Homo sapiens: one gene and its partners. The protein of the gene in region 2 purifies or fractionates together with the protein of the main gene of each other region. This does not show direct contact. Each region holds a gene or a part of one and is shown on either strand. Other genes may lie near its edges. The genes, in order: ZNF668, PRR11, RRP12 and REXO4.

Evidence for each region.
Region 1: the proteins of PRR11 (region 2) and ZNF668 purify together in Homo sapiens (affinity purification with mass spectrometry; 3 studies listed by BioGRID and IntAct, with this or other methods). This does not show direct contact.
Region 3: the proteins of PRR11 (region 2) and RRP12 purify together in Homo sapiens (affinity purification with mass spectrometry; 3 studies listed by BioGRID and IntAct, with this or other methods). This does not show direct contact.
Region 4: the proteins of PRR11 (region 2) and REXO4 purify together in Homo sapiens (affinity purification with mass spectrometry; 3 studies listed by BioGRID and IntAct, with this or other methods). This does not show direct contact.

The regions. Positions count from the first base shown.
Region 1 is NC_000016.10:31,060,328-31,064,256, reverse strand, and holds the end of ZNF668 (zinc finger protein 668), read left to right. Parts: coding exon 1-444; intron 445-1,976; coding exon 1,977-3,189; 3' UTR 3,190-3,410; downstream 3,411-3,929. UniProt on the Homo sapiens protein: May be involved in transcriptional regulation. May play a role in DNA repair process.
Region 2 is NC_000017.11:59,200,730-59,207,228, reverse strand, and holds the end of PRR11 (proline-rich protein 11), read right to left. Parts: intron 5,667-6,499; coding exon 5,598-5,666; 3' UTR 520-5,597; downstream 1-519. UniProt on the Homo sapiens protein: Plays a critical role in cell cycle progression.
Region 3 is NC_000010.11:97,356,319-97,363,353, forward strand, and holds the end of RRP12 (RRP12-like protein), read right to left. Parts: intron 4,301-7,035; coding exon 4,228-4,300; intron 2,693-4,227; coding exon 2,625-2,692; intron 2,302-2,624; coding exon 2,219-2,301; intron 879-2,218; coding exon 776-878; 3' UTR 383-775; downstream 1-382.
Region 4 is NC_000009.12:133,414,976-133,422,259, forward strand, and holds the start of REXO4 (RNA exonuclease 4), read right to left. Parts: upstream 3,036-7,284; 5' UTR 2,870-3,035; coding exon 2,645-2,869; exon of another isoform or gene 687-2,644; intron 37-686; coding exon 1-36.

The DNA of each region.
Region 1 (3,929 bases), on a different chromosome or scaffold from region 2:
AGCCAGTGGGGAGAAGGTGTCAGGCTCCGCGGCCAAGCCTAGGCCCTATGCGTGTCCGCTATGCCCCAAGGCCTACAAGACGGCACCCGAGCTGCGCAGCCACGGGCGCAGCCACACGGGGGAGAAGCCCTTTCCGTGCCCCGAGTGCGGCCGCCGCTTCATGCAGCCCGTGTGCCTGCGCGTGCACCTGGCCTCGCACGCTGGCGAACTGCCCTTCCGCTGTGCGCACTGCCCGAAGGCCTATGGCGCGCTCTCCAAGCTCAAGATCCACCAGCGTGGCCACACAGGCGAGCGGCCTTACGCCTGCGCCGACTGCGGCAAGAGCTTTGCTGACCCTTCAGTGTTCCGCAAGCACCGGCGTACTCACGCTGGCCTGCGGCCCTACAGCTGTGAGCGTTGCGGCAAAGCCTATGCGGAGCTCAAGGACCTCCGCAACCATGAGCGGTGAGGGTGCCTTCCGGGGCAGGGCGCCTTCCGGGGCAGGGCGACAGCGTTGCTGCAGCCAATGGGGCCTGGGTTTGAGTCTCAGGGTAAAGTGAGCCAATGGGAAGGTGGGCATGGCAGATCCAAGGGGAGGGGCTAGGCATGTGGGAGAAATTGGTGCCCCTGATTGGGCAGAGGTGGCAACCACCTTGAGGTTGATCTCTGAGAATGGGATTGGGTCAGATTGGCCTCCGTTGTAGGCCAGCTGGAAAGGGGGCGGGGTTTGGAGTTGGGCAGTTCTGAGGGTCTTTTGTGGAGACCAGGAGGTGTGAGTGGGGCCTGGTTTGTCTAGGTCATTTTTTTTTTTCTTTTTCTCAGCCTCTACATTAATGACATGTTTCTAGGCTGGGCACAATAGCTCACGCCTATAATTCCAGCACTTTGGGAGGCTGAGGCAGGAGGATTGCTTGAGCCCAAGAGTTCAAGACCAGCCTGGGCAACACAGCAAGCCTCGTCTCTATAAAAATAAAAAAATTACCCGAGCGTGGGGATGTACACTTCTAGTCCCGGGTACTTGGGAGGATAAGGTGGGAGGATGGCCTGAGCCTGGGAGGTCGAGGCTGCAGTGAGCTATGGTCAGGCCACTGCATTCCAGCCTGGGGAACAGGAAAAAAAAGGCGGAGGACACGTATCTTGGTTTTCTGTTTTGTTTTGTTTTGTTTTTGTTTGTTTGTTTTTTGAGACGGAGTTTTGATCTTGTTGCCCAGGCTAGAGTGCAATGGCGCGATCTCGGCTCACCGCAACCTCCGCCTCCCGGGTTCAAGCGATTCTCCTGCCTCAGCCTTCCGAGTAGCTGGGATTACAGGCATGCGCCACCATGCCCGGCTAATTTTGTATTTTTAGTAGAGACGGGGTTTCTCCGTTTTGGTCACACTGGTCTTGAACTCCTGACCTCAGGTGATCCGCCCGCCTCGGCCTCCCAAAGTGCTGGGATTACAGGCGTGAGCCACCGCGCCTGGCCATGTCTTGGTCTTTTTTTTTTTTCTTTTTCTTTTTTTTTTTTTTTTTTTGAGACGGAGTCTCGCTCTGCCGCCCAGGCTGGAGTGCAGTGGCAAGATCTCGGCTCACTGCAAGCTCCGCCTCCCGGGTTCACGCCATTCTCCTGCCTCAGCCTCCCGAGTAGCTGGGACTACATGCACCCACCACCACGCCTGGCTAATTTTTTATAGTTTTAGTAGAGACGGGGTTTCACCGTGTTAGCCGGGATGGTCTCGATCTCCTGACCTCGGCCTCCCAAAGTGCTGGAATTACAGGCGTGAGCCACCGCGCCCGGCCCATATCTTGGTCTTTAATGTGCAGAGACAGGTCTTTGGAATAGAGACACCCAGCCAGCCTGAAGGCTTCTTCCTCTGGGGTGCAGCCATGTGGCTCTTAGGGGATTAAGCCTAGGCCCCCACGAACGTTTGGGGAGCCCCTAAAGTACAGCCCAGACAGGCAGTGGGGTCACGTTATGGGTCTGTCGCCTTCATGCCAAGTCCTCCACACCCCCGCAGGTCCCACACCGGCGAGCGCCCCTTCCTCTGCTCCGAGTGCGGGAAGAGCTTCTCCCGCTCATCCTCGCTCACGTGCCACCAGCGCATCCACGCGGCACAGAAGCCCTACCGCTGCCCGGCCTGCGGCAAGGGCTTCACGCAGCTCAGTTCCTACCAGAGCCACGAGCGCACGCACTCGGGGGAGAAGCCCTTCCTGTGCCCGCGCTGCGGCCGCATGTTCTCCGACCCCTCGAGCTTCCGTCGCCACCAGCGCGCCCATGAAGGGGTGAAGCCATACCACTGCGAGAAGTGCGGCAAGGACTTCCGGCAGCCGGCGGACCTGGCCATGCACCGGCGTGTGCACACAGGCGACCGGCCGTTCAAGTGCCTGCAATGTGACAAGACGTTCGTGGCGTCCTGGGACCTCAAGCGGCACGCGCTGGTGCACTCTGGCCAGCGGCCCTTCCGCTGTGAGGAGTGCGGGCGAGCCTTCGCCGAGCGTGCCAGCCTCACGAAGCATAGCCGGGTGCACTCGGGGGAGCGCCCCTTCCACTGTAACGCATGTGGGAAATCCTTTGTGGTGTCGTCGAGCCTGAGGAAGCACGAGCGGACCCATCGAAGCAGTGAGGCCGCGGGTGTGCCCCCTGCACAGGAGCTGGTGGTGGGGTTGGCGCTGCCTGTGGGCGTGGCAGGTGAGAGTTCAGCCGCCCCGGCAGCAGGGGCGGGGCTGGGGGACCCTCCAGCAGGGCTGCTAGGGCTGCCCCCGGAGTCAGGTGGTGTGATGGCCACACAGTGGCAGGTGGTGGGCATGACGGTGGAGCATGTGGAATGCCAAGATGCTGGTGTCCGGGAGGCTCCTGGTCCCTTGGAAGGGGCAGGCGAGGCGGGGGGTGAGGAGGCTGACGAGAAGCCCCCCCAGTTTGTGTGCCGAGAGTGCAAGGAGACCTTCTCCACAATGACGCTGCTGCGTCGGCACGAGCGCTCACACCCGGAGCTCCGGCCCTTCCCCTGCACCCAGTGCGGCAAGAGCTTCTCTGACCGGGCTGGGCTGCGCAAACACAGCCGCACTCACAGCTCAGTGCGCCCCTACACCTGCCCCCATTGTCCCAAGGCCTTCTTGAGTGCCAGCGACTTGCGCAAGCATGAACGCACCCACCCTGTGCCCATGGGGACCCCCACACCCCTGGAGCCCCTGGTGGCTTTGCTAGGAATGCCTGAAGAGGGGCCGGCCTGAAGCCCATGACCCCCCAGCACCACACTCCGGGAGCCCAGCCCCCATCGGGGGCTTCCTGTACCTCCTTTTGCCTGGCTCTGCTCTTTAGACTCCAGATCCCTACCCCTCAGCAACTAGCTCCCCTGTCGGCCAGCTAAGAGAGCTGGGACAGTGGAGGCTGGCAGAAGCTGAGACGTGACTGTCTAGGAGTAACACTCATTAAAGCTTTCATTTTGGCACCAGGTCATCTTCTGTGTTCTGGTTGGGAGTGAATGGGTGGGAGTTTGGGCATCAGGTAAGGTTCAGTGGAGACCCCTGGATCCACAGATTTGAAACTAGAAGGGTCTTTGGATGCAGTTTCCCAAAGTATGTTTCAGGATGTCTAGTGACAAAAGGTTTCATGGGCAGGTAAGAAAGGAAATTCCCTGTGCCCTTCTTGGGATTCTTGGTGATCAAAACTTGGTGATCAAAAGTGGGCTGGGGTGGCCCTGGAGGAGCAGTCCCTCTGGCAGCTGAAGCTGGCATCTCCAGGCCCACTGCCCCTTTGTTGTGAGGGCCTGGGACTTAGGAATCTGCCCACAAAAGGGGTATTGTTCATTAAAATCTACCCATTTCTTCATAGAATATACGTCTTCAATTGCCTGGTGGTGGTGGCTCACACCTGTAATCCCAGCACTTTGGGAGGCTGAGGCAGGCAGATCACCTGAGGTCAACAGTTCTGAGACCAGCCTAGTCAACATGGTGAAACCCTGTCTCTATTA
Region 2 (6,499 bases):
TTTTGTTTTTTGTAGAGACAGGGTCTTGCAATGTTGCCCATACTGGTTTCAAACTCTTGGCCTCAAGTGATCCTCCCACCTCAGCCTCCCAAAGTGCTGGGATTACAGGTGTGAGCCACTGTGCCTGGCCCCCAAGCCTATAATTTTTTAATTTATATATTTTTCTATACTTAACATATACTTTTTTTTTTTTTGAGACAGTTTCGCTCTTGTTGCTCAAGCTGGAGTACAATGGGGCGATCTCGGCTCACTGCAACCTTTGCCTCCCAGGTTCAAGCCATTCTGGCTCAGCCTTCCCAGTAGCTGGGATTACAGGTGTCTGCCACTATGCCCGGCTAATTTTTGTATTTTTAGTAGAGACAGGGTTTCACCATGTTGGCCAGACTGGTCTCGAACTCTTGACCTCAGGTGATCTGCCTGCCTCGGCCTCCCAAAGTGCTGGGATTATAGGCATGAGCCACCGCACCCGGCCAACATTTACTTTTCTATAGGTATTATATTTCTAGTTTAAAAAGAAGGTTAGAAAGAGAAAAACCAAAACTTTTATTAATCTTTATTTTAAAACATAACCAGATGCACCTTGGTTGTTTACATTCTCTGGTTGCCATTCAGTCTCAAAGTAAACACTGGGAGCATATGATAAATCGTAGTTTAAGGAAGCCATAGCACTTACAGAGTTCTCAAATGGTTACAATATAAAATCTGTCATAAAAATCAGTAAAAGATGCAAGGTAGAACACATTTTAACACTGGTACAATGGCAGTAGCAGCTTTGCAAATGTTTGTCTATATGATTTCCACAGGACTTTTTTTTTTTGCCTGGCCTCATTATGTAGCAAAGCATTTTTTCTTTTCTTTTTGAGATGGAGTCTTGCTCTGTTACCCAGCAGGCTGGAGTGCAGTGGTATAAACACAGCTCACTGCAGCCTCAACCTCCCGGGCTCAAGTGATTCTTCCACCTCAGTCTCCTGAGTAGCTGGGACTACAGGCACACATCACCGCTCCCGGCTAATTTTTCGTTTTTTGTAGAGTTGGGGTCTTGCAGTGTTGCCCAGGCTTGTTTTGAACTCTTGGCCTCAAGCGAACCTCCTGCCTTAGCCTCCCAAAGTGCTAGGATTATAGGTGTGAGCCACTGCACTGGGCCATAAAGCATTTTTCTTTTTCTTTCTTTTTTTTTTGAGACAAGGTCTCACTCTGTTGCCCAGACTGTAGTGCAGTAGTGTGATCTCAGCTCACTGCAACCTCCACTTCCATCGTTCAAGTGATTCTCACGCCTCAGTCTTCTGAGAAGCTGAGACTATAGGCACATGCCACCACACCCAGATAATTTTTATATATTTTTTTTGGTAGAGACGGGGTTTCACCATGTTGGCCAGGCTGGTCTCAAACTCCTGACCTCAAGTGATACACCCACCTCGGCCTCCCAAAGTGCTGGGATTACAGGTGTGAGCCACTGTGCCTGGCCCCCAAGCCTATAATTTTTTAATTTATATATTTTTCTATACTTAACATATACTTTTTTTTTTTTTTTGAGACAGTTTCGCTCTTGTTGCTCAAGCTGGAGTGCAATGGGGCGATCTCGGCTCACTGCAACCTCTGCCTCCCAGGTTCAAGCCATTCTGGCTCAGCCTTCCCAGTAGCTGGGATTACAGGTGTCTGCCACTATGCCCGGCTAATTTTTGTATTTTTAGTAGAGACAGGGTTTCACCATGTTGGCCAGACTGGTCTCGAACTCTTGACCTCAGGTGATCTGCCTGCCTCGGCCTCCCAAAGTGCTGGGATTATAGGCATGAGCCACCGCACCCGGCCAACATTTACTTTTCTATAGGTATTATATTTCTAGTTTAAAAAGAAGGTTAGAAAGAGAAAAACCAAAACTTTTATTAATCTTTATTTTAAAACATAACCAGATGCACCTTGGTTGTTTACATTCTCTGGTTGCCATTCAGTCTCAAAGTAAACACCGGGAGCATATGATAAATCGTAGTTTAAGGAAGCCATAGCACTTACAGAGTTCTCGAATGGTTACAATATAAAATCTGTCATAAAAATCAGTAAAAGATGCAAGGTAGAACACAGTTTAACACTGGTACAATGGCAGTAGCAGCTTTGCAAATGTTTGTCTATATGATTTCCACAGGACTTTTTTTTTTTTGCCTGGCCTCATTATGTAGCAAAGCATTTTTTCTTTTCTTTTTGAGATGGAGTCTTGCTCTGTTACCCAGCAGGCTGGAGTGCAGTGGTATAAACACAGCTCACTGCAGCCTCAACCTCCCAGGCTCAAGTGATTCTCCCACCTCAGTCTCCTGAGTAGCTGGGACTACAGGCACACATCACCGCTCCCGGCTAATTTTTCGTTTTTTGTAGAGTTGGGGTCTTGCAATGTTGCCCAGGCTTGTTTTGAACTCTTGGCCTCAAGCAATCCTCCTGCCTTAGCCTCCCAAAGTGCTAGGATTATAGGTGTGAGCCACTGCACTGGGCCATAAAGCATTTTTTCTTTCTTTCTTTCTTTTTTTTTTTTTTGACACAGGGTCTCACTCTGTTGTCCAGACTGGAGTGGAGTGGTGTGATCTTGGCTCACTGCAACCTTCACCTCCAGGATGCACATAATTCTCGTGCTTTAGCTTCCTGAGTAGCTGGGGCTATAGGCACATGCCACCACGCCTGGATAATTTTTATTTTTATTTTTGGTAGAGACGGGGTTTCACCATGTTGGCCAGGCTGGTCTCAAACGTCTGACCTCAAGTGTTTTGCCCGCCTCAGCCTCCCAAAGTGCTGGGATTACAGGCGTGAGCCACTGTGCCAGGCCTTTTTTTTTTTTTTTTTTTTTTTTGAGGCAGGGTCTGGCTCTGTTGCCCAGGATGGAATACAGTGGCACAATCTCAGCTCACTGCAACCTCTACCTCCGGGGCCCAAACCATCCTCCCACCTCAGCCTCACAAGTAGCTGGGACTACAGGCACACAACATCACACCTGGCTAATTTTTTTGATTTTTGGTAGAGACGGAGTTTTCATCATGTTGCCCAGGCTGGTCTCAAACTCCTGAGCTCAAGTCATCCACCTGCCTTGGCCTCCTAAAGTCCTGGGATTACAGGCGTGAGCCATGGTGCCCGGCCCTAGCATTTTTTTAATGATCTCTTATCCCACAAGAATGGTCAAGTCATTTAGCATTAAATGAATAGAGTACACAGTGGTTTACAATATTATAAACATTATAAGCGCCCCATAAAATATTATTGTTATAAATACTCAACTGCTTTATTCTCAGTGATTATTCCCTTTATTTTTACATAATGTAAATGTAGCTAGCAGGTTTAAAAAAAAAAACTTTTACTAGAAGCTGATATATATCTCTTAACGTCACTACCCATTTAATTTTTTTTTTTTTTTTTTGAGACAGGGTCTCTTGCTCTGTCACCCAGGCTGGAGTGGCAGTGTTGCAATCTCGGCTCACTGCAACCTCTGCCTCCCAGGTTCAAGTAACTGGGACTACAGGTGCGTGACACCACACCTGGCTAATTTTGTATTTTTAGTAGAGATGGGATTTCACCATGTTGGCCAGGCTGGTTTCGAAGTCCTGACCTCAAGTAATCCGCCTGCCTCGGCCTCCACAAGTGCTCGGATTACAGGCATGAGTAACCGCACCCGGACACCTGTTTAATTTTCATCCATAAATGTGTTATAAATATAGATGTGGATCTCTGGCCGGGCGTGGTGGCTCACGCCTGTAATCTCAGCACTTTGGGAGGCTGAGATGGGTGGATCACCTGAGGTGAGGAGTTCAAGACCAGCCTGGCCAACATAGTGAAACCCCATCTTTACTAGAAATACAAAAATTAGTCAGGCGTGGCAGTGCGCACCTGTAATCCCAGCTACTCAGGAGGCTGAGGCAGGAGAATTGCTTGAACCTGGGAGGTGGAGGTTGCAGTGAGCCAAGATTGCGCCACTGCACTCCAGCCTGGGTGACAGAGTGAGACTTCATCTCAAAACAAAACAAAACAAACAAACAAACAAACAAAAATCTCTATATATAGATGTGGGTCTCAAAAACAGGACTGCCTCTTAGGTGGTAAACACTGTCCCCAGGTCTGCTTTCTAGTCTGATGACTTTACAACAACACTCTATTTGGCATCTCAATGCAATATTTATCTGTAGAAATACAGTCTTTCTGGGGAGTTGCTTTTTACTTTTTAGAGATGAGTTCTTGCTCTGTTGCCAATGCTGGAGTATAGTGGAACAATCATAGCTCACCATAGCTTCAAACTCTTGGGCTCAAGTGATCCTCCCACCTCAGCTTCACAAGTAACTTGGACACTTAGACTACAGGTGTGCGTCACCATGCCTGGGTAATTTTAAATTTTTGATAGAGACAGGGTCTCGCTATGTTTCCCAGGCTGTATTACTGTCTTTGATTACATAGGTCAGTGACAACAGGGAACTAGGTCTCACAGTGACCTGCTATGGACTTCAGAGATTCCTTGGCAAGGCATTGTCGAAAATATAAGGTTCATGTTGAAGTTGTCATAAAATTTTTATGTAGCTGTATAAATGTGGACAGCAGATATAAAAATAAGGAATACCTTAGACTTCTGTAAGCCAGATATAAGTACCTACCTAAGATGCTAGAAATGATATTCTAATTTAAATTTTTTTTTTAATTTTTAGAGATGGGGTCTTGCTATGTTGCCCAGGCTGGAGTAGAGTGGCTATTCACAGGCATAATTATAGTGCACTACAGCCTCAAGTGATCCTCCCTTCTCAGCTTCCTAAGTAGCTGGGACTATAGGCATGTGTCACCACAGCTGGCTGATTTTTGTATTTTTAATAGAAACGGGGTCTCCCTGTATTATGTTGCCCAGGCTAGTCTTGAATTCCTGGGCTCAAGCAATCCTCCCACCTTGGCCTCCCAAAGTGGTGGGATTACAGGTATGAGCCAAGAGGCTATTTTTTTACTGTCATAACTGCACCTATACAGTACAAACTAGAGTTATCTAGTTAAATTTGAACAACCTCTCTAATCTAAATTGGGTAATTCCAGGATAAACATCACTTTGGAGATTGTATTTTCCCATCTGGTTCTCTTAATCATCATGCAAACTAGAAAATATCCAAATATCTGTATATACACTTTATATCACAGTATGTGTGGGCTCCATACATACTCTAATTCTCCAAATGCAATTATATTAGTATATCTATATAAACCCTACTACATTAAAAAAAAGGATTTGGGTGGGTTTTTTTTGTTTGTTTGTTTGTTTTTGTTTTGCTCTTGTTGCTCAGGCTGGAGTGCAATGACGCGATCTTGGCTCACTGCAACCTCTGCCTCTTGGGTTCAAGCAATTCTCCTGCCTTAGCCTCCCGCATAGCTGGGATTACAGGCACCCGCCACTATGCCCAGCTAATTTCTGTATTTTTAGTGGGGAAGGAGTTTCACCATGTTGGCCAGGCTGGTCTCAAACTCCTGACCTCAGGTGATCCACCTGCCTCAGCCTCCCAAAGTGCTGGGATTACAGGTGTGAGCCACTGCACCCAGCTGGGTGTTTTTATCTGTATTTGTTATGGATCATCTCATGGAGTGAGGCAGAGTTGGCATCAGTTTTGTTCATCAAAGCTGCTTGTAGAAAGTGGCAGAGTTGGAGTTGGGCTTCTAGGGTGAGCCAGCTATAAAAAAAAAAAGTCCCAATTATAATATCAATTATATTCCTGTGATAAGTACAACTCTCCTTTCTCAACAGAACCCAGAATTTTTGCATGGCAACACTGCATTCAGATTGTAAAAACCACTTTTCCCAGTTTCCCTGATGCAATCAGAAGTTCCTGGATAGGGCTTCTTTGAAGAAATGAGGCATAGCTTAATTAACATTTGCCTTTCTCCTTCTCTTGCCTAGAATGTGGACATGAGGCTTCAGGAAATGTAGGCATTTTGTATTAAGAGGATAAAAGCCACACATTAAGGATGGAAGAACAGTGATTATATGGTGAAGCCACTGTATTATAGTTGTGGACTTCCTACTGCCCAAAGAAATATTTAAATTAAAAAAATAAGTCCGGGAGCTAAGCTATGAGGATGCAAAGGCATAAGAATGATACAGTGGACTTTGGGGACTTGGGGGAAAGGGTGGGGTGGGGTGAGGGATAAAAGACTATACATTGGGAACAGTGTACACTGGCTGGGTGATGGGTGTGCCAAAATCTCAGAAATCACCACTAAAGAACTAATTTGTGTAACCAAACACTTTCTGTTCCCCAAAAACGTATTGAAATAAAAAATAAATTTAAAAAAAAAAAAGATAGTTGTGGGCCGAGGACGGTGGCTCACGCCTGTAATCCCAGCACTTTGGGAGGCCGAGACAAGAGGATCACTTGAGCCCAGGAGTTTGAGACCAGCCTGGGAGATATAGTGAGACTTCGTCTATAAATTTTAAAAAAACAGGCTGGGCCCGGTGGCTCACGCCTGTAATCCCAGCACTTTGGGAGGCCGAGGCAGGTGGATC
Region 3 (7,035 bases), on a different chromosome or scaffold from region 2:
CTTGTCTGGGAAAAAAAGAATGTGGGAAGACACGGAGGTGAATGAACAAGGCTATGCTGGGCACTTAGAGGGGCTCAGCAAATACTTTGTTGAATCAATGAACAAAGATGCTGGAGAGACTTGTGCCCAGGACAGCTGGGGCAGTCCCTGGTGCTGAACTGCAGCTCCCGACACCAGCCCTGGGGCATTCGCTGCCCCTCCTGACACAGGTGGGTGCTCCCGGGCAAGTTCCAAAGCCTGTCCTATGGGCAAAGCCTTATGATATGCCCTGGACTGGATGTAAGGAGTTAGACAGGAAGAGGTCAGGCCACTGCTGCCAACAACTGCACACTGTTCTTACCCCTGGAGGGGGCAGACTATGAAACAGTTTCTAGAAAAAAAATGCAGGATGAGACACATTTATTCTACATCTGGTCACAGTAAATCTCACCCAGACCACAGGCAGGATGCCACGTGGCTACAGGCAGCTGGCGGAAATGGAGATCATCTGTTCTGGTGCTCATGGCCACTCTGGGCAGAAAGCAAAGGTGCCTCATGGCACCTACTCAGAGGCACTGAGGCCACATTCCCATCTCCAGGCACCAGGGATGTCTCTGAAGGGTGATTCCATTTGGAGTTTCCAAAATCCAGGACTTCTGAGAGCCAAGCCCTAGTTCCAAGTCATCCTGAGTCCAGGCTCTGCCAGAATCTTGAGCACCTGGAGCTGGTGGCAAGGCAGCCTGGGGGCTGAAAGGGCCTCAGACTGGACCACAGGGCAGCCCAGGGGCCCTGGGCCTCAGGGTCGACGATCCTTTCTGCGGTTTTTGTGTCCCACCTGGGAACCTCGCCGGGCAGCCTTCACCAGGCCTTTGAACTGTCCCTGCAGCTTCATCTTCTTCCTGCAGGGCCAAGGAACGGAAGGGTCACATCTGGCTGAGAATAGGAGGCCCCCTCCTGTTGCCAAATGATGGCTCACCCCCAGCGCCAGCAGGGATGAGAAGGGGGCCTCCAGGTGGTGGCCAGCACATGAACTAGGCAGACCTCACGTGGTTCCAGCTTCCACACGGCTCATGTCCTGACCTGGACATTCCACTTTGGCACAATTATCCCCCTGGAAACAGGCCTCCCTTCCATTTTTCCTCTAATGTATGTCCAGAGAAGGTCAAAGCTCCCTCTGCCCACCCATCCCTCCATTGAAAGGTAACTTACAACCCGCAGAAGCTAGAACTTTACAACACCATTTCCCTAGTAACATTAGTTTCCAAAGCAGTCCTACACATAACCCAATTTAAGGGCCAAAGTCGGAAACAACTCTAATTTCCTACCAATAAAGGGATTAGAAAAGCAAATTATACAAAGCTATTAAAAATGATGACTATGGCTGGGCGTGGTGGCTCATGCCTGTAATCCCAGCACTTTGGGAGGCCGAGGTGGGCAGATCACAAGGTCAGGGGATCAAGACCATCCTGGGTAACACAGTGAAACCCCGTCTCTACTAAAAATACAAAAAAATTAGCCGGGTGTGGTGGCGGGTGCCTGTAGTCCCAGCTACTCCGGAGGCTGAGGCAGGAGTATGGCGTGAACCCGGGAGGCAGAGCTTGCAGTAAGCCGAGATCGTGCCACTGCACTCACTCCAGCATGGGTGACACAGCGAGACTCCGTCTCAAAAAAAAAAAAAAAAGATGACTATGTAGAGTATGTAAATACCAGAAAACATCTGTATGACATAATATCATGTTTAAAGAAGCAGTTCAGGGCGGGGCACGGTGGCTCGTGCTTGTGATCCCAGCACTTTGGGAGGCTGAGGCATGCAGATCATGAGGTCAAGAGATCGAGACCATCCCAGCCAACGCGGTGAAACCCCATCTCTACTAAAAATACAAAAATTAGCTGGGCATGGTGGCACGCGCCTGTAGTCCTAGCTACTCGGGAGGCTGAGGCAGAAGACTAGCTTGAACCTGGGAGGCAGAGATTGCAGTGAGCCAAGATCGCACCACTGCACTCCAGCCTGGCGACAGAGCAAGACTCTGTCTCAAAAAAATAAAAAAATAAAGAAGCAGTTCAAGTCAGTAATACAGGTAGGTACCAGCTACATGATATAGGTGCATGTTAAAAAAAAAAGCTGGAAGAGACTCAAATTGAGCTGAGAGTTTAATAAGGCCTTCCCTTCTTTAGAGCACTCTGCTCCCTCATCCCCACCCATCCTCCAGCCCCCAGCCTGCCTGGCACAGCGTCATACCTGCGGTTGAGCTTGCTTCTGTTGAGGGGGATGTAGGCATAGGGATCCGGCCGGCCTTTCTTCTTCACATCACCTTTTGCTTTCTGCTTGCCCAGAGAAACAGAGTCAGCTAGGAGGGTGGGGTTCCCCTTCTGTCCCTGCCCTAGACTTGACAGGCCCCATAACCTCCCTTCATCCTCTGCCTTAGGTGGTGCCAAAGAGCTCCTGTATCCTTGGAAGGCCATTCAATAAGGTCCCCCATTTCAGATGCCACAAGGTCTTAGCATCTGAACCCCTTCTTCTTTCCTGGCCTCAGTTGAGTTCCAGGAAGGTGCCTCTCAGGACAGTGATGGGCACAGCTCCTCCTTGCCCCTCCCTGGCACCTGTCCAGTGCCAGGAGACCCCATGCCCTACATGCAGCACTTACCTTGGCCTTGTATTCAGCCCCAGGCATAGCCTTCTTGGCCACAGGGCGATGAATGCCAGAGCCTCCAGCTACGGGGAGAACACAGGACCATGAGTCAGGCAAAGCCAGGGCAGCCCCCTCCAGAAAGGCAATGGGCACCCTCTCTGAGAGAGCTGCAAGGGAGCAGATGAGTGAAGGCCAGGAACTTGGCTCTGTCCCCTATCAAACCAGGACAAAGACCTTCCTCGAGGAGGGACTGTCTGGTGATTTGACAGTTAGATCACTGGGCTCCTCAGACTGACCCAGAAGCCTTACAGCTTACCAGAGACCTCTGGGAACACATATATTCTCCGCTAACACACTAACAAAAAATAACCCATATTCTCCAAAGTCAGACAGAATTCAGCCAGCCAGCCAGCCAGGTTCAACTCCCAGCTCTGCCACTTACAGCTCCAACCTCAGGCAAGCCTCTTAACCTCATCTGTAAGAGAAGCCATTTTAGGCTTTCCCTTCTTATCTCATTTGGGTTTCACACAAACACTGAGATAGCAGGTAGCTATTTAACCCATTGTAACAGATGTGAACACTGTGGCTTAGAGAGATCAAGATCCTTGCCCAAGGTCAGCTGTCTTCTCCAGCCTGGACTTCAACATTCAACGACAAGTTGTGGATGGAATCCTACCATGCCAGCTCAGGAGGACTCTCTGAGACGACCAACACGAACCACCCCCATTCCTCATGTTTTTGCAGATGAGAAACTAGAAGCTCAGAGACAGACAGTGTAACCAGGCCAAGGTCAAACAGCTAAGCAGAGGTTGGGCAAGCAGCCCTGACCCCAGGTCTCTGCCTCATCAATTGGCAGGTACTCCTGCCTCAGCATCACTCCATCCCAGGGCACAGTAGGTGAGCTGGCCCTGGCTCATGGGTGCCACAGGCGGAAGAGCCATGAGGTTGTGCAGCTGCGTTATGATGCTCTAGGGCTGAGGACACACCAGCTACTGGAATCAGAGGCTTCCCACAGGAGCCCCTGGACCTCCAGATGCAAAGCAAGGGCTCTGCTGCAAGGGCTTGGGGGCAGGGGTCCTGCAAGGCTACCCTGGGAGGAAGGAAGCAGAGGTGAAGCCACCTTGGCACTTCTAGCAGCTGCTCTAGGAGGGCAACAGCTGGTGGGCCCAGAGATAGAAATAGAGGGGAACCCTCTGGCCAGACCCAATACCAACCTTCCCAGTTCCCAGCCCTGGCACCGGCCAAGTGGCTTCTCTAAACCCAGCCTGACTCGGTTGGTGCTCTTAGGGTGACCAAGAGAGGCAAGCAGCTCGCAGAAGGGACAGACTCAAGCCTCTTGGGAGGCCTGGGCGGGTGGGAAGGAGCTGTGGCTCAGGGCTCCTCAGAAGGCTGGTGGTTCCATGCACAGATCTCCTAACCCATAGGCTCTCTCACACCCCCAGGGCCCCTTAGACTCCAGGCCCATCTTGAGTGTCATATCAGCCAACCTCTGTTGGTGCCAAGTGAGTGCAACCAGGCTGTGCACCCTCATGGCCCTGCCACCCCTTCCTGTGACTCCCCTCCCTAATGCAGGTGACAGGGATCCATGTGTCCCAGGAGAGAGGAGTGGAAGCCTCACCTTGGTACTGAGGGGGTATCTCCAGCTCCTCCTCCTCAGCCTCTTTCTGGTGCTTGAGCTTCTGGTGCTTTTTCTATAGAGAGAGAATAGGTGGGTAGTGAGTGAACCAGGGGATGTGCCCACCCTCGGGAATGCCAACAGTAACAGCAGAGTACCCTGCATCAAGCAGGAGAGGCCCTCTGCTAAGCACCCCACCTCTCACTTACAGATGGGGAAACTAAGGCCCAGAGAGGGCAAGGAACTGTCCAAGATCACAAAGCCAGGCAGTGCAGAAGAGAAGCTCTGGCCATGTCCTGACTGCCGGGCTGGTGGCGGCCGTTCCTGCTCTTCCTTTCCACTCTGGGCCCCACCCAGGCCTGCAATTGCCCAGAGGGCTTCTGACATCAGCTTACCCAGCCTTCCTAATGGGGAAAATGAGGTCCCTGGCCTCTTCAGAGAGAATAGCTTTACCAGTTCTTTGCTTCACACAAACCCCACCCCACTCTCCCTATTAATCACTCACTTACTGATCCCCTACTAAGTGCCAGGCCCTGGGGACACAGGGCACAAGATCTAGTTCCTGTGCTCCACGGGCTCTCAGGCGGGTGGGAGACCCCTGCTCAAGCCAGTCATCACTGATCCTCAACAATGCTACCATCCCAGCAGGTATGATCATGGACAGTAAGACACGTCAGCTCGTCAATTATATTCAACAGGAAGTGACAGAGCACCTACTGTGCGCCTGGCACTGTGTTAGGCAGTCCAAGGGAAGGAGGGAGAGCCCGACAGCGGCCCCAGCCCATCAGATGTGAGCCTAGAACCAACAACCAGGCCAGGCAGAGGCGTGCTGTGCAGGGAGGGCAGGCAAACAGAGGTGGCCCCAGCTGGCAAGGCTGGTCCCTGCACTGTGGTCTGTGCCACTGTGCCCCAGAAACCTCTAGAAACTGCAGATTCCCAGGGCTCCAGCTACCCAGGGGATCCAGAGGCCAACCAGGGGAAAGGTATGCCAGGTAAAGGGATCGGCCTGGGCAGAGCGAACAGGCTGCAGCACACACAGGGTGTGCCTGGGAGACGGGGGACTCCAGGTCCACTGGCCGAAGCCCAGCTGAGTGGGCTCCTAGTGGAGAAACAGGAACCGGGAGGAAGCTGACTCCGACTGCAATGTAGGGGATGATGGCTGAGCTGGCTCTTGGTTCAGCTGGTGCTTGGCCAACAGCCCAGCCTGCTGGCCCTGAATGGAGGCAGCTACTTGAACCCCAGCACTTCATGCTTCCACAATGGTTGGCCGAGGAGTTAGAACTTGGCCGGGCCCGGTGGCTCACGCCTGTAATCCTGGCACTTTGGGAGGCTGAGGTGGGTGGATCACGAGGTCAGGAGTTCGAGACCAGCCTGACCAACATGATGAAACCCCATCTCCACTAAAAATACAAAAATTAGCTGGGCGTGGTAGCATGCACCTGTAATCCCAGCTACTCAGGAGGCTGAGGCAGGAGAATCACTTGAACCTGGGAGGGGGAGGTTGCAGTGAGCCGAGATTGCGCCACTACACTCCAGCCTGGCGAAAAAGTGAGACTTCATCTCAAAAAAAAAAAAAAAAAAAGAGTTAGAACTAAGTGCCATGCAAGAAACCCTCTGGGGGTCTCAGTGGCAGGAGCCAGCCACAGAATGCAACTGCCCTGGGGCCCTCTCAGTGCCTGGAGACAAGGCATCTGCTCAGTCCCGCTCTGCCCGGGGCAGTGGGGGACATCCTTAGAAAGCCGTGGTCGGTTCTCCCCGGCCAGGGAGAGGAGTAGGCTGCCGAGGATCTGCAAAGCCACATGTGAAGATGTGCTTAAGGAACCCAGGAGGCTTTGAATGGAAAAAGATTTCCAGGAAAAGTGAATAATCAAGTCACAATGGCTTACTTTGCATCACTAAGTGGCAAGCACTGTACACAGAAACAAAGACTTGAGCCCAGGCAGTCTGGGCCCAGACACACGTTTGGCAGACGACTGCCATCACCTGGAGAGGGAGACTAGACTGGCCTGAGGGTGGCCTCTCGGAGGGGCCCATGTCAGACCAAGCAGAGGAAGGACTCCCAGTAGGTGAAGCTGTCCCACAGGAGTGGTTGCCTGGGCGCAGAGAGGGGCAGGAGGGTTTTCAGCAGAAGCCCCACTGCTTTTCCTCAAGGGCATCCCAGAGGGGCTTCCCGCATCAGAGGCTGCTCAGGTCCTCAGCTACTCTCTGACCCAAGACTCTGGATATGTACTCAGCTCTTCAAACAGAATTCTGCGCTGTCACAATGCTCTAATAACAAACTCCTCCTCGGGCCACACTGGGCAGATGGACACTTGGCAAGGCATATGGGCAGACATTGACAAACATGACGCCAATGAAAACGGGGATGTGGGGGAAGTCTGTAACACTTCAGGCACTATGCTAATGCACTTTACACGCCCAATCTTACCAAACTGTCCCAATGACTCCACCAGGTGGTCTATTTATAACCCCACTTTACAGATCAGGAATTGAGGCTTTAAAAGGTTAGGCTGAAGCCAAGATGGGACCCCAGAGTCTGCCGCTTCCCCACCGATATCACTATACCCTGATGTAGGCTCTGTCACCTACGGGTGGTGCCCAGGAAGGCTGGATGGGCTGGGGCATAGTCTGGAAGGGCAGAGAGGGAAGAAACTGCTCCAGAATGGAAATGTTCCACTGAGCTTGAGACTGACAGGTGTTGGGTGATGGGTTGGGCCCACTTCACCCTTGTTGGTTCAGGTGGGGCAGCTGAGAGGCTGTTTCCATCCTGGCAGGCAGCACTGCCAGGTCAACAGGGGTAATGGTGGCAAA
Region 4 (7,284 bases), on a different chromosome or scaffold from region 2:
CTTTTCTGGGGCCTGAGATTTTTGTTTCAGCAGCCACTGGGACCCAAAATAAAATACATGCTGCATTTGAATTTGGAAATTACACACAGCAGATTGAAAAAACTTACGTGTGTATGTATATACACACATATACACCAAACACATCTATACAATTCCCATCCGCATCACTGAAATTCATTTTCAAACGGTTTGGAAAAAGCTCTTTTTCATTCTCATGGGTCACTTGTGGTGAAATGCTGTTTCTTTGCTTATCTTATTATAATGCATTTTGCACCTGCTCCTTCATGCATACAAAATGTCAAACTCATTCTACACCTTGGGTACCTGTTGAGTGGCTGGACACCACAGACCACTTCCCTTTTCAGCTTATCTAGAAAGAATTTTGGAGTTAACTTCCCTCACAGCTTGGGCCAACATCCTGCTACACAGAAATCGCTTTTTTTTTTTTTACAAGATTCCCTGGTTTGCTACTGCTGTGAAGATCTCAGGAAGGTGGGGGGTGTCATAAATGAAAAGAAAAGCTTCTGTCAAACTGGAGTGGCTGAAGAACTGCTAGCAGCCACACACCTTGGCTGTCACCCAAGCAGAGGCTCCTGTAGTCTTAGAGCCCAGCTTCCTCCCTGTGTTCAAATCCCCAGTGGGAGTGGGCGCCACCACAGTGCGATGATGAGGCGGGTGCTACTTACCTGTTCTGTGATAGGTAAAGAACTGAAGGGCTGACTTTCTTGGATGAATTAGAAAACACTCCAAAGTTTCCCTATAGCACACATCCCTTCCATTCACTTATTTTGCTTTTCTTTCTTGGGAGAAGGAAGAAGAGTTGGTGTTCAAGAAATCCCACAGAACCCTGGGGCTGCCCACGGGAATTTGACTGGTCCTGTGTGTTAAGACAGGAATGTCTGCACTGAGATACTGTGCAGAGTATTAGGAGGTTCAAGAAGCGCTCGGGGAGGCTGAGGTGGGAGGATTGCTTGAGGTCAGGAGTTGAAGACCAGCCTGGGCAACAAAGTGAAACCCCATCTGTATTAGTTCATTGTGCACTGCTATAAAGGAATACCTGTGTTTGGTAATTTATAAAGAAAAAACGTTTATGTAGCTCATGGTTTTGCAGGTTGTACAAGAAGCATGGTGCCAGCATCTGCTTCTGGTGAGGCCGAAGGAAGCTTCCCATCATGGTGTAAGGTGAAGGGGGAGCAGGTGTGTTGCGTGGTGAGAGAGCAAGCAAAAAAGGTGCTAGGCTCTTTTTAAACAACCAGCTCTCAAATGAACCAGCAGAGTGAGAACTTACTCGTTACTGAGGGGAGGGCACCAAGTCATTCATGAGGGATCTACCCCCATGACCCAATACCTCCTATGGGCCCCATCTCCACCACTGGGGATCACATTTCTTTTTTAAAAAAACTACTTTTTACTTTTATTTAGAGATGGAATCTCACCATGTTGCCCAGGCTGGACTTGAACTCCTGAGCTCAAGTGATCCTCCTGCCTGGGCCTCCCAAAGTGCTGGGATTACACGTGTGGGCTACTCGGGAGGCTGAGGCAGGAGAATCACTGGAGCCCAGGCAGCAGTGAGCTATGATCCTAACAGGAGGTAGCTCCAAGGGAGCTCCAAGGGATGTGGTAAGAATGTATGAGTGACGCACGTGGAAGAGTGTCTAGGAGAGAGCAGGCAACCTCTACAGAAGTGCAGGTCACTAGGGAGACAGCAGGTACAACACAGCCTTAAAAGCATGGACTCCAGAGTCAGCCACCTGGTTCCCAGCCGCAATCTTAGATGATCTATTTAAACTTTTCCAGCCTATTTCCTCATCTGTACAATAGCGATGATGGAAGTGTCCACCTCACAGTCTTATTGTGGGGATTGCAACACGCATGGCATAGAGCACATGGCAGAGTGCACATTTTTAGGAGCTCAATTAGTATTTACTTCAAGACCGTAAGTGTCGCTAGAACCCCATCACATGTCTGCTATCTGCTTTTCACTTCTACACAGGAATCTTCTTTCTCCCTGTCTTGCTACACAGACCAGTGTGTTCTTTCGTTGTTGTTGTTTGAGATGGAGTCTCGCTCTGTCGCCCAGGCTGGAGTGCAGTGGCGCGATTTCGGCTTACTACTGCCTCTGCCTCCCGGGTTCAAGCGATTCTTCTGCCTCAGGCTCCCCGAGTAGCTGCGACTACCGGCGCGCGCCATCACGCCCGGCTAATATTTTTTGTACTTTTTTAGTAGACACGGGGTTTCACCATGTTGGCCGGGCTGGTCTTGAACTCTTGACCTCAGGGGATCTGCCCGCCTCGGCCTCCCAAAGTGCTGGGATCACAGGCGTGAGGCCCCGCGCCCGGCCTGGTTTCGGGATTTTAAGCTAAATTTCTCTTTGTAAAATCCATTCTAGTTAGTTCATTATGCAAAAGGTACAAGGGTTTATCTTTGCTTTTTTGTACTTGAAATAATTCTTTCATCAATTTCTTTCAAGCAAACAAGTTCGAGACCTCCCTCAACAGGCCACCTTTCTTGTGAAAAGCTGTTTACAAGATTTCGATTCAAATCTGCCTTTACAGGTCTTTTGGGGCTACCCAAGTCTTTCCCTCCGTCGCGTTCTGCGGGAATGAGCTGCGCAGCGCTCCGCCCGGGCCCCCTCAAGCCTCACCTCTTGCAGCGCCTTCCAGTTTTGAGAAAAGTCTTCTGGTGCCTTTGGAGGTCGCACCACAGCACCGGGGCCGCTTGCTGGCTTCTTGCTTACTTCCCGCGCCTTGCTTTTCCAAAACCTTTTTTTCTTCTTGTTTTTCTTCCGAGTGAGCGTCTTGACAGGACCCGGCTTAGCCACGGGGCTGCTCGGGGCGCGCTTGGAGGCGGGGACCTTCGCCTTCCCCATCCTGCTGCCGTCCAGCGCCTGGGCCGGCGGCCACCCGAGACCCCGGCCTCCCCGGGCCCGGCGCCCTGGCAGCACAAGCGCCTGCCCAGGCCAGGCCGAAACACACCCACCGCAGGGACCCCGTCCAGGAAAAGACTCCGGAAGAGACCCCGCACGCGTTGCGCATACCTCAGCACGCACGCTCCAGTCCCCGGAAGCGCTCGTCTCTCCACAACCGGCTGGAAACCGGATCCCTGCCTCTGGTTCCGCGCAGCCTGGGCGGTTCACCCGCACGGGACTTGGGCCGCCGCCTTAGCCAGCGGCATCCGGGGTCATCGACCTCGAGTTTGACTGGGGCAAGCCGAGGACCTCCCCAAGATCCGGGATGGGGATGAGAGATGCGAACGCCGGAAGGGAACTGGGGGGCCGCTGTGTGTGTAGCACCTGGTAGGGCAGCTGAGCTGGGGGCACTGGGCGGTGGGGCTAGTGAGAGCCGGGCTAGGTCGCTCGCCTGCGTCCTGGACTCTCGAGCCTTTCCCGCCTTGGGCTGCTCCTTGCTCAGCCTCACAGCGGCTCATCTTCCACGTACAGTGGGGAAACTGAGGCCCAGGCACCGGGAGGAGTTCCTGCCAGTTCACTCTGTAGCAGGACGAGCCGCAGACAAGAACCCCTCAGACACCGAATTGTAGAAGGAAAGGGCTTTATTTAGTGGGGAGCATCGGCAGACTCACGTCTCCAAAAACCGAGCTCTCTGAGTGAGCAATTCCTGTCCCTTTTAAGGGCTTACAACCCTAAGGGGGTCTGTGTGAGAGGGTCGTGATCGATTGAGCAAGCAGGGGGTACGTGACTGGGGGCTGCATGCACCGGTAATCAGAACGCAACAGAACAGGACAGGGATTTTCACAATGCTTTTCCATACAATGTCTGAAATCTATAGATAACATAACCGGTTAGGTCAAGGATTGATCTTTAACCAGGCCCAGGGCGCGGCGCCGGGCTGTCTGCCTGTGGATTTTATTTCTGCCTTTTAGTTTTTACTTCTTTATTTGGAAGCAGAAATTGGGCATAAGACAATATGAGGGGTGGTCTCCTCCCTTACTTCTGCCGCCTGGGTTCAAGCGATTCTCCTGCCTCAGCCTCCTGAGTAGCTGGGACTATAGGTGCACGCCACCACTCTCTGCCAATTTTTGTATTTTTAGTAGACCTGGGGTTTCGCCACGTTGGCCAGGCTGTCTTGAACTCCTGACCTCCAGTGATCCATCCGCCTCGGCCTCCCAAAGCGCTGGGATTACAGGTGTGAGCCACCGTGCCCGGCCGGGAGTGGGTAGATTTGATGTGCGTGTGTAACAGGCAGAGGTTGATGGAGTAACAGGGAAGTGAGGCTCCTAGGATTTTGGTCTGAGCAATTGGGTGTGGCCATTTATCATCTCAATAAATGTCTGCGGGGAGCAGGGTGAAGTATGGGGGTGGAGCCATGAGCTCCTTTTCACACTTGCTGAGTTTGAACGGGCCGTCAGTCACCAAGGAGAGACGTCTAATCAGCAGCAGGATATAAGATTCCTAAGCTTAGGGAAGGGTCAGTGCTGGAGATGTAATTTGGAAATCGTCAGCACATAATTAGTGTTGAAACATGAACCTGGGTTAGTTCATCCAAAGAGAGAGTACCAATATAGGGAGTGAAGGGTTAAGACCAGATAGCAGGTGCTGGGGGCTCTCCAGGGGCGAAGCAGCAGAGGAGGCTGAGGGGGAGCAGTCAGTGCAGTGGGAGGAGAAGCGGATGTGAGTGGCATCAGAGAATCCAGGGGGAGAATAAACCACATCAGATGCTGCTGAGAGGCTGAGAAGGACGAGGACAGAGAGATGGGAACCAGATATGGCACTGAGATTGTCAGCAAGTCCACCGAAAAGGGTTTTCTTTTTTTTTGTTTGTTTTGAGACGGAGTCTTGCTCTGCTGCCCAGGCTGGAGTGCAGTGGCGTGATATCGGCTCACCACAATCTCCACCTCCCGGGTTCAAGCGATTCTCCTGCCTCAGCCTCCTGGGTAGCTGGAACTACAGGTGCACGCCACCATGCCCAGCTAATTTTTTTTTTTTTTTTGAGACGAAGTTATGCTCTTGTCGCCCAGGCTGGAGTGCAATGGCGCAATCTCGGCTCACCGCAACCTCCACCTCCCGGGTTCAAGTGATTCTTCTGCCTCAGCCTCCCGAGTAGCTGGGATTACAGGCATGTGCCACCACGCCCGGCTAATTTTGTACTTTTAGTAGAGATGGGGTTTCTCCATGTTGGCCAGGCTGGTATGGATCTCCAGACATCAGGTGATCCTCTCGCCTCAGCCTCCCAAAGTGTTGGGATTACAGGCGTGAGCCACCGCACCTAGCCTAATTTTTGTATTTTTGAAAAGAGACGGGGTTTCACTATGCTGGCCAGGCTGATCTCGAACTCCTGACCTCATGATCCGCGTGCCTCGTGATCCACCTGCCTCGGCCTCCCAAAGTGCTGGGATTAAAGGCGTGAGCCACCACACCTGGCCCAGGTTTTCTTTTTAAAAAAGGAAAAAAACTTTGTTCCAGCAGTTTGTAAACCAGGGCAATGCAGCCTTCTGTACAAAGGTGCATTCCAGGGAACAAAGAGAACAAAGAAAGAGGTCGTCTTTTGTAGAGAACTTCCTGCCCAGGTTCCCACTTTGGTCCACTTATGCAAATGAGGAAGGCACACTTGCTTAGTTCTGATTGGTTAATACTTGCTGAGTTCAGATTGGTCGATGCAGGTCACAGTCGATGGGTTGATTCTGGCGGCATAAACAGGAACAGATAGCTGTGAAACCATCCCAGAGTTAAGTGAGAGTGGGGGCTTTCCAGGAACGCAGAATGTGTGTGTGACCCTAGTCAGCAAATGGCTGCTAGGTCCTACTTTGAATTTAGGCCCAGTTAGTAACTTGGGATCCATCAAGAAGGATTGGCTCTTTCAGGGTTCACAAAGTTATTGGTGACCTTTTAAAGATCAATTTCAATGGTATGTGGGAATTGAAGGCAAGGAAGTGGAGATAGCCACTGAAAATAATGTTTCTAAGTTCTTAAAGACAGCCAGAAACAGGGCTATGGCAGGAGGACAGTGTGGGTCAAGGGAAGGTTGTTGATTGTAATCAAGAGACACCAGAGTGTCTGGGCTTGGTGGCTCATGCCTGTAATCCCAGCACTTTGGGAGGCCGAGGCAGTCAGCTCACCTGAGGTCAGGAGTTTGAGACCAGCTTGGCCAACATGGCGAAACCCCACCTCTACTAAAAATACAAAAACTAGCCAGGCGTGATGGCGGGTGCCTGTAATCCCAGCCACAAGGGAGGCTGAGGCAGGAGAATCACTTGAACCTGGGTGGCGGAGGTTGCAGTGAGCCGAGATCGTGCCACTGCACTCCAGCCTGGGTGACACAGCAAGACTCTGTCTCAAAAAACAAACAAAAACCAAAAAGAGACAGGAGAGTCATTCATGCTGATGGAGTGAGCCAGGTACCAGGATCTCGATATCTAAGCATGCCCCCTTCTCCAACAGCCTCCTTACCTTCCTGCATGAAAGCACACCCTTCCCTCCAGTCCCCCATTCCTTTATTCTGCTGTATTTTTCTCCATAACACTTACCACCTTTGAACATACTACATATACAACATGTGTCTGTCTAGCAACTTTGCTGTCTGGCTCTCTTCCCTAGAATTTAAGCTGTGAGAGGCCGAGGCTGCTGTCTGCCTGGCTTGGGGCTGCTTTCCTGGTGTCTAGCACAGAGCCTGGCCTGTTTCAGGGGCTCAGTGAAACATTTGTTGGCTGAAGGAATGAATGAATGGCTCTAGCAGAGGGGCAGAAACTAACGATGCAGGAGGAGAGAGCTGGGAAGGGATCCAGAGCCAGGGCCTGGCAGGAAGTGTAGGTGTGTCCTCCCTGATCGCAGAGGAGGAGAGAGGCTGCACTTTGAGGGGTGGAAAGACAAGGTGAATCCCCCTGCTGGTCATCAGCTTGTGCGGCTCTGTGGGTGTAAAAGAGTGGTTTGGAGCATGTGAAGTGAGTCTTCCAGGAGATGAAGGGGATTGCCAGGCCGTTTGTGATGATGCTGAGATCTGGTGCCGTGCAGCCTGCTTCTGCGACTCTCCTCATCAGGCGCAGGCACAGAGTAGGTGGAGAGTTGAGCCAGAACCACGATGTCTTTGGCACAGCCTCTCATCTGTCAGATGGGAGCGGGGACCCCGGAGAGGGAGTCAGCCGAGGTCCTGGCATTCCTTGTGAACCCCCGTCTGTGGGTTTCTGGTCCAGTGTCCCTTCTCCAGATTAGATGGCTTAGGCCTCCTCTAAGGGGGTGGGCGTGCACATCCGGAGAGCTGTCTGGTGTGCAGGACTGGGCTGCAGGTTACCCTGAACTGCAACCATCTTAGAGCAAGGCCCAGCTTGCAGCAG